Homo sapiens: one gene and its partner. The protein of the gene in region 2 purifies or fractionates together with the protein of the main gene of each other region. This does not show direct contact. Each region holds a gene or a part of one and is shown on either strand. Other genes may lie near its edges.

Region 1 (4,135 bases), on a different chromosome or scaffold from region 2:
TGGGGCCAGGGAGCACCCAGAAACAGCCCTGGGCTGCCAGCCCAGGCCTGGACATTTGCCCACCACGGGTGGAGGGCCTCTCTTGGCATCAACCATCCACGACCTCCTACGGCACCATCTCTCCTGCCAAGTTGCCCATGGGGGTCTCCAGGAAGAAAACCAGCCTTGGGGGATTCCAAGGCCCAGGGAGGGTGGGAAGCTGCCCACGCCCTCAGGCTGTGCCCAGTCTCATGCTCACCATTTCTTTCTATGGCCAAAGGGAAGTCGCTGGACGAGGGAGGTCCCTCTGCTGGGATGAGCAGCACAGCACGGCTGGGGCCCCAGGTCACAGAAATGGGTGCAGGGATCCTGGGACCTGGGCTGGATGGGCACCCGCTTTGGGATTTCCTCTGCTTCAGCCTGTGTATGGTCCAGGGAACAGTGTAGGAAGGGGCGTGGCATGGGGTGGGGCTGCCATGTCCGGGGCTTCTGCGTAGCCCAGCAAAGATGCTACAGGAGGAACAGGAGGAGAGGGCTGGGAGGGGTCTGGGGGAGGAGGAGGAGATGGGGCTGCAGTGAAGGCCTTGCTCATTGCAGGGGGTGTGGGAGGCCAGGCAGGGTCACCTCTGGCCCTGCAGAAAGAGGGACGGAAGTAGGCGGGCTCAGGCCTGCGCCTCCAGGGCACACACGTGCACACTGGGCAGGCAGAACCAAGAGGGTGGCAGCTCCTTGCTGGTGCTGTCCTCGTGGAACCGGATGTGGAGGAAGAAGTCTCCCGTGTAGAGGAAGAGGAGGGCCCCGAGGCAGGCCGACTGGCCGGACGGCTGCACCTGAGCAGGGAGGAGAAAGACACATCAGTCTGGTCAGCAGCAGGGGCCACCCAAAGCCACCAGGAATCCTGGGAATCTGCCTGGACATAGGTGTTATGGGGGAAGCGAGGGCCGCCCAGGCCTGGCTCCAGTGCCCCCTCCAGCAGGTCACTGCGCCTCTCCGAGCCAGTTTTCATCTTGGAAAGGAGCTGCCAATATTCCCATTCCTGAATTGTTTGGGGGCTCAGGGGGTCAGGAGTGTGGGAGGGTCAGGAGTGTGGGAGGGAGTGAGGGAGAGGTTGGGGCAGAGGGGAATGGAATGTTAGCCTGTGCTGGGGCCTGACAGTGAGGTGCTGAGAGGCAGCTTGAGAGGTAGGAGGTGGGAGGTGGGGGCTGAGGGCGTAGGGCTGGAGCCTTTCCGTGGAAGGAGCGGCAGGCACGGGATGGGTGACAGTGACATCACAGTGATGCCACAGCAGGGTCCAATCATGGAGCAGCCCCCTGTCCTGGGCACAGCTCCCATTCCCTGCACATTTTCCTGCTTCACCAACCCTGAGGGCCTCACTGTCCAGGACTGAGAGACAGGTGAGCTTGTCTAAGTTCCTGCAGTGAATGGGGCAGACTCAGACTCAGTGTGCACACGTGACCACAGAACCCCTGCTGCTATCGTCTGCTGGACATATGCTGACCCCAAAGCCCACCACCCAGGGAAGGGGGGATGATGACCACATGGCCAGAGGCTCCCAGACCGCCTTGCACACCACCACGCACCGCGTCGAGGTAGAAGGTGCTGGAGCCCACGAAGGAGACGGTGTCGTGCAGGTCGTAGTTGTGCACGCCGTTCTGGTGGTCCTGGAAGGGGACCACAGTGAGGGCGAAGGGCCCTACGCTGCGCGGGCTCCGGTTGGTCAGCCGCACCTCCAGGCGCACGGGGTCGCCCACCTGGCAGGCCGCCACAGCCTCGCGGTCACATGGCTGTCCGTCCACCAGCACATCTGTAAGGGACACGAGACTGTCGGGGGCTGGGCTGGCCTGCACGGCCCAGCCGGCCTACCCCACCCACTCGCTGATTCATTCATTTCTTCCCTCCTTCACTCTTCAAGGCTGCCACCCACTCCCTGCCAGGCTGGACACTGGGGACACAGATGTGTGACCAGTTCCTGGTCTCCGGAAGAGGAACCTGGCAAAGACGGGTGTGGTGGCTAGAGCTATGACTCAAGGGGTCTGCACCCCAATGGAGGGGCCTCTGGGAGGGCCTCCTGCCACAGCCCACCTAGAAGGGGAGGAGCTCTCTAGTGAGTCAGGGACTCCTGTCCAGGTGAGAGTCTGACACCGTAGAGGCGAGGGCGTGGAAGGGGCCCTACAGGCCCTAAAGTGCCGCAGGTCAGGGGTCAGGTGAGCTTTGGGGCACAGGCAGGCCCGAGGTCCCTCTCCTCCAGTGGCTGCAAGACCACACACCCCAGGAGGTGGTGTCTTGATCTCGTTCCCCAGGAGGAATGCACAGTGGGCTCCAGCACTCCCTATAAAGTGGCTGCACTGTGTTTTCTTCATTCTGTCAGCCTGTCCAGGGTGCCTGACACACAGCTCAGCACAGAACAGGTGCTCAGGGAAGTGGCACGGTTCTGGGACCCGTGGACCCTGCCAGGCAGGGAGCTGGTCCTGGGCGAAGGAGCATGGATTCATCTCCTCTTCCCTTCCTTGCTTACATGCCCCAAGAGCTTGCAGACAAGGAGGACGCCTCCTAACTGGGCAGCAGCAAGGAAGGAGGCTGAGGTCAGGGTGGGGTGGGGGCGGAGAGAGTGTGCCCTCTCTCAGGGAAGCGAGCTGATGATCAGGGTGGCAGGTTTCATGGTGATCCCCAAAAGATACGTGAGAATGTGACCGTATTGGGGAAGGGGAGTCTTTGAAGATGTAATTAAGTGAAAGGTCCCGATAGGAGCTCATTCTGGATTAGAGTGAGCCCTGTAGTGAGTGACAATGTCCTTATATGGGGCAGAAGAGGAGGAAGCACAGACAGAGACAGAGGCTGAGACTAGAGGATACGGGCAGGAGCCAAGGAGCCCTGGGTGGCTGGAGCCCCTAGGAACTGAAGGAGGGAAGAATAAGCCCCCAGAACCTCCCATGGTCCTGCAGCACCTTGGTCTCAGCCTTCCTGCCTCCAGAACTGAGAACACACATCTGTTGTTCAAGTACCCAGTTTGTGGTCGTTCGCTGTGGCAGCCCTAGCAGGCTAAGATGTGGGGTGGGGGGCCCTTCCTGCTGGGCAAAGGCCACCTGCTGTGGCCCTGTTGTGGAGGTCCTGGAAGTGGGAGGTCCCGCAGCCTGCAATTTGACTTCATGTCATCCAAGTACAAACTGCGTGGCCCTGGGAGCCAGCCTGAGCCCCATGGTCTGCCGTGGCTGATCCTGTGCTGTGGGCTATCAAGGCAGGCAGGTGGAATAAGGATGACATGATGGTGACACGCATAGGGAGAGCAGGTGGGCCACAAGAGCACTCCCACCCCTTCTGCCCCTTAACACAGTCACGGGCATCCTGGGCCGGGCCTGGTGCCAGCACCCTGCAGCGGAGGATCCTGGAAACACCCTGACCCACAGCCCTCTGCCCTTGACCTCTGTTCTGTGGCTGCAAGGAGGGCCCTGTGGGGTGTCCTCACTGCAGCCTGGAGAGGAAGGTCCTCTAAGGACTGGCCTGCCTGGCTCACACGGTCAGGCCAGAGCAGGCAACTTCAGGTGTGGTTGGGCCTCCTGCTGTCCTGCCTGGGTTCCACTGCCCTCACACGCAGGTGAGGAGGAAAGCACCTTCTAAGACCCCAAGCCACTCTTTCGACCCCTGAAGAGGATGGGGGCAGAGGGGACAGGATATTGAAAGTCCCCACACCCAATTCCCAGCGAGTCCTGGCTCAGAGCCTCTAGGCCTGTCTCCTCTGCCATCCAGGGTCCTGGGTTCACAGGGAGGCTGTGGGGGCCTGGCAGGCAGCAGAGGATCTCGTGGCCAAGGCACAAGAAGAAGGACTCCTGGGACATCAGTGCTCTCCATAGCCCGTGTGCCAGAGAGGTTTAAGGGTACGCAATTCTGAAACATTCATGTCCAGTGCGTCCTTATTTTCTCATTTGAGAGAAGTCAGTGCGTGGCTTATGATAAGGAGATGAGGACATGGCCTGTGCTATTAGGGAGCCACCTGAATGTGGCTCGTGTCCACTGTTTTCCAGTGTAAGTGACTGATGCACACCTTTTTATATTGAGCTCTGTCTGAATTCTGAGTTTATGTTCCTGGAACAGTGAGGCAGATGAAATGGGTGGCACAAGAGAAATAAACATTTCTAAGAGAGGCTGATAGGTCAGACTG
Region 2 (5,046 bases):
TGTACGGTGAGCAAAATAACCCTGCCTCGGCCAGGCGCGGTGGCTCACGATTGTAATCCCAGCCCTTTGAGAGGCCAAGGCGGGTGGATCACTTGAGGCCAGGAGTTTGAGACCAGCCGGGCCAACATGGTGAAACCCCATCTTTACTAAAAATATAAAAATTAGCCGGGCATGATGTTGGGTGCCTCTAATCCCAGCTACTCGGGAGGCCGAGGCAGGAGAATTGCTTGAACCAGGAGGCAGAGGTTGCAGTGAGCCAAGATCATGCCAATGTACTCCAGCCTGGGTGACAGAGTGAGGCTCCATCTCAAAAAAAAAAATCCTGCCTCCTTGTGGGATGCAGTGTCAGAGTTCACCTCCCTGTGCCGTGCCCCCTCCCCACTCAGGGCCTGGCACTAGGTGGGTTTATGCAGGTGCCTGGTGTTGTATGAAGAGCCCCGAATGCAGCCTGGGCTCGAGTCTGCAGCTGTGTGTGGTCACACATAGTGTGTGCCTGTGTCCCACATTCAGGGCTACTCAGGGTCTCTGTCTGCAGGACAGGGTGGAAGGGATGGCTCCAGCGTTTGGATTCTGGGTTTTCATGAGCTAGGTAAGGAGGCTTAGCAGTTGCTGCTGCTGTGGACTCCCCACCCTGCCAAAGCCAATGCCAGCCCCTGGGACTTCCAGGCTCTCAGGAGGGACATGGGTGACAGTCACTGCCCCCCATGATGCAGCCTCTTCAGGGGCCCTCCTGGAGTTGCCTCTTCTTCCAGAGAAGCCCAATGTGCAGGGCTGGCTGAAGGGGGAAGAGAAACCCCAAAGCCCCACCCAGCCTTTTCCTGGCCTCCCCTCCACCCAGAGCCTCCCTGAGAGGTATCCAGGAACCCAGTTTGAAAGCCAGTTACACATGGGACAATGGGTGTGATGGCAGCATCAGACCCACAAAAGGGTTGTAAGAACTAAAGGACATTACCCACTACTGATGCCATCGTTTTACGGCTGAGCAAACTGAGGCTCGGTGCAGATCAACCACTTGCCCACATGGCTCCTACTCTGCTAAGCTGCCGGGGATGTCCTGTGTCATCTGAGGGCCTTCCCTGCCCAGTCCTCCCAGGAAGCAGCCTTTGATTCAAATCCCATCCTGTTGAAGGCTGGGCGCAGTGGCTCACGCCTGTAATCCTAGCGCTTTGGGAGGCCAAGGCAGGAGGATCCCTTGAGATCAGGAGTTCGAGACCAGCCAGACCAACATGGGAAAATGCCATCTCTACTAAAAATACAAAAATTAGCTGGGTGTGATGGTGCATACCTATAATCTCCGCTACTCAAGAATCACTTGAACCCAGGAGGTGGAGGTTGCAATGAGCCGAGATCGCGCCACTGCACTCCAGCCTGGGTGACAGAGCAAGACTCTCTCAAAAAACAATCCCATCCGGCTGGGTGCGGTGGCTCACGCCTGTAATCCCAGCACTTGGGGAGGCTGATGCGGGCGGATCACGAGGTCAAGAGATTGAGACCATCCTGGCCAACATGGTGAAACCCTGTCTCTACTAAAAATACAAAAATTAGCTGGGCGTGGTGGCATGTGCCTGTAATCCCAGCTACTCGGGAGGCTGATGCAGGAGAATCACTTGAACCAGGAAGTCAGAGGTTGCAGTGAGCCGAGATCGCGCTACTCCAGGCACTCCAGCCGGGCGACAGAGCAAGACTGTCTCAAAAAAAAAAAATCCTGTTGGAAAGTGAGGCAAGGCACAGGGTGGAGCTGGCCCCAGAGCATCACTCTCCACCTCTGGCCTGCCTTGCCCTGCCCTTGGGTCATCTGGAACCTCAGCAGTCACAGGACTGCCTTCTGTGTCTCCCTCCAGAGCTGCCCTCCTCGGAGCACCTGAGTGTGGCAGATGCCACCTGGCTGGCCCTGAACGTGGTGTCCGGCGGTGGCAGCTTCTCCAGCTCCCAGCCCATCGGCGTGACCAAGATCGCCAAGTCAGTCATCGCCCCACTGGCTGACCAGAACATATCCGTGTTCATGCTGTCCACGTATCAGACAGACTTCATCCTGGTGAGCTGACCATCACAGACACGCCTTGCACACTCATGCCCGCCTCTGACACACTCACTCCCATCTCCCACCCCTTGCAGCCTTGCCCTTCCACGCTATTCCAGGGTGGGGGCAGAGTCTCAGGGTGAGAGGTCGGTGCCCCAGACCCACATCCCCCAGGGCCACCAGGCACACACGGCCTCAACTTCTTGCCCCTAGGTGCGCGAGCGGGACCTGCCCTTTGTCACCCACACATTGTCATCAGAGTTCACCATCCTGCGGGTCGTCAATGGCGAGACCGTGGCAGCCGAGAACCTCGGCATCACCAATGGCTTCGTGAAGCCCAAGCTGGGTGAGCTGGGGGCGGGGGTTTGTGCAGGGGAAACCTCACGAAGTTACCAGGCCCAGCCGCAGACCAGCCTTACTCTCAGCACGGGCTTCTGCCCACTGAGCATGAATGGAGTGCCAGGCAGAACGGGATGCAAAGGGCCCAGTGTGGTGGCTCATGCTTGTAATCCCAGCACTTTGGGAGGCCGAGGCAGGCAATTCACCTGAGGTCAGGAGTTTGAGACCAGCCTGACCAACATGGAGAAACCCCGTCTCTACTAAAAATACAAAATTAGCTGGGTGTGGTGGTGCATACTTGTAATTCCAGCTACTGAGGAGGCCGAGGCAGGAGAATCACTTGAACCCAGGAGGCGGAGGTTGTGGTGAGCCGAGATTGTGCCATTGCACTCCAGTCTGGGCAACAAGAACAAAACTCCATCTCAAAAAAAAAAAAATGTGATGGAAAGGTCCTAGGCAGGCCTTGCTGCCGTGTCTAGCAAGGGTGGTGGACGTGCATGCAGACAGCAATGGCCAGAGGCCACTCCTGCTGCAGCCCAGGTGTCAGGGTGGATTTCCCTGGGCAGGGACTGTGGTGCTGAAGCCTGGAACACAGGTAGGAACGGAGCCAGGTGGTGCCGGTTGGGAAGGGCATCCCAGGCAGCCAGCACAGCATGTGCAAAGGCCCAGGGGCCTGAGGGTGAGATGGAGAATCAGGACGGTGGTAATTGGTGGTAGAGGCTGGAGAAGCAGCGGTGAATGAGTCTCTTGGGGCCTGCAGCTGAGCCCTCCCCAGCCCTCTTCCCAGGCCCTGCACCCACCAGAGCTGCTGCTTTCAGTCCCAGCCTCAGTGCCTGACATCTTTGTGCTCTTACAGTCCAGAGGCCAGTCATCCACCCACTGTCCAGCCCGAGCAACAGGTTCTGTGTCACCAGCCTGGACCCTGACACGCTGCCTGCTGTTGCCACACTCCTCATGGATGTCATGTTCTACTCCAATGGGTAGGGCTGCCTTGGGCATGAGGGGTTGCAGGGTGGGCCAGGGAGAGGCATGGCTCCGCCTAGGAGTCTTAGTCTGACGGGGGAGGCTTTGCTAGGAGCTCATCTGAGGGAAGAGACACAGACCTTCCCTGGAGCTAGTCTGAGCAGAGAGACATGGACCCACCCTGGAACTAGTCTGAGGTGGGAGACATGGACCTGCCCCGGAGCTAGTCTGAGGTAGGAGACACAGACCCGCCCCAGAGCTAGTCTGATGGGGGACACATGGACCCTCCCCAGAGCTAGTCTGAGTGGGGAGACACAGACCTGTCCTGGAGCTAGTCTGAGGTAGGAGACACAGACCCACCCCGGAACTAGTTTGGGGTGGGAGACATGGACCCGCCCTGGAACTAGGCTGAGGGGGAGACACAGCTCTACCTAAAAGCCCCAGTCTCAGGGGTGAGACATCCTACCCTGGGAACCCCAAAATTTGGTGACGCCCCAAAGACTCATTGGGAGCTGTAACAAACTCCCCACTCCCCACTGAGCTCCGAGGACAGGCCCAGTCTGTTGAGGAGCTGAGAACTCAGATTTTTTTCATTTGGTGAACAACAGACATTGTGTCACTTCCTCAGCAGATTTTGTAAAGTTTAGGCCAACACGAGGTGGGGCGGGGCAGGGTCCAGCATGCTGACAGTCACCACAGCCTGTGCCCTGAGATGCAGGCAGGGGCCGGTGTAACCTGCGTGGGAGGCCGGCCGGGCCTCCAGTACTGCAAAGTGTAGCACCCGCCTTTGTGAATGCGGTGAAATCATCCCCGTGGCATAGCGAGCAGGATGAGAAGGACACTGGCCCAGGGTCACCCAGGTGGCATCAAAGCCTGGGCAGGGCCCAGCTTCCCTGGGCTGGTGTGAATGGGGCAGGGGCCACAGGGGCCCCATCTTTACCAGCTGCCTCTGGTCCCCAGAGTGAAGGACCCCATGGCCACTGGGGATGACTGCGGCCACATCCGCTTCTTCTCCTTCTCCCTCATCGAGGGCTACATCTCCCTGGTGATGGACGTGCAGACGCAGCAGAGGTGAGCCAGGCCCTGGGGTGGACGTTCAACCCAGGGTGGGCCCCAGGGTCTGGGGGGACTATGTGATGGCACATCACCCACTTTGTCTTTTATTTGTTGTTGTTTTTTTTTGATACGGGGTCTCGCTCTGTCGCCCAGGCTGGGGTGCAGTGGTGCGATCTCGGCTCAAGGCAACCTCCACCTCTCAGGTTCAAGCAATTCTCCTGCCTCAGCTGGGACTACAGGCATGTGCCACCATGCCCAGCTAATTTTTGTATTTTTAGTAAAGACAGGGTTTTGCCATGTTGGTGAGGCTGGTCTCAAGCTCCTGACCTCAGGCAATCCGCCCGCCTCAGGCGTGATTTTTTTTTTTTTTTTTTTAGACGGAGTCTCGCTCTGTCGCCCAGGCTGGAGTGCAGTGGCACTATCTCGGCTCACTGCAAGCTCCACCTCCCGGGTTCATGCCATTCTCCTGCCTCAGCCTCCCAAGTAGCTGGGACTACAGGCGCCGCCACCACGCCTGGCTAATTTTTTGTATTTTTAGTAGAGACCAGGTTTCACCATGTTAGCCAAGATGGTCTGGATCTCCTGACCTTGTGATCTGCCCGCCCCGGCCTCCCAAAGTGCTGGGATTACTGGCATGAGCCACCGCAACCAGCCTGATTTTTTTTATT

What was found.
Region 1: the proteins of CASTOR2 (region 2) and TRAPPC9 fractionate together in Homo sapiens (co-fractionation; one large-scale study listed by BioGRID). This does not show direct contact.

What each region holds. Positions count from the first base shown.
Region 1 is NC_000008.11:139,730,420-139,734,554, forward strand, and holds part of TRAPPC9 (trafficking protein particle complex subunit 9), read right to left. Parts: intron 1,784-4,135; coding exon 1,560-1,783; intron 810-1,559; coding exon 642-809; 3' UTR 1-641. UniProt on the Homo sapiens protein: Functions as an activator of NF-kappa-B through increased phosphorylation of the IKK complex. May function in neuronal cells differentiation. May play a role in vesicular transport from endoplasmic reticulum to Golgi.
Region 2 is NC_000007.14:75,015,757-75,020,802, forward strand, and holds part of CASTOR2 (cytosolic arginine sensor for mTORC1 subunit 2), read left to right. Parts: intron 1-1,841; coding exon 1,842-2,035; intron 2,036-2,233; coding exon 2,234-2,366; intron 2,367-3,215; coding exon 3,216-3,339; intron 3,340-4,282; coding exon 4,283-4,393; intron 4,394-5,046. UniProt on the Homo sapiens protein: Functions as a negative regulator of the TORC1 signaling pathway through the GATOR complex. As part of homodimers or heterodimers with CASTOR1, directly binds and inhibits the GATOR subcomplex GATOR2 and thereby mTORC1.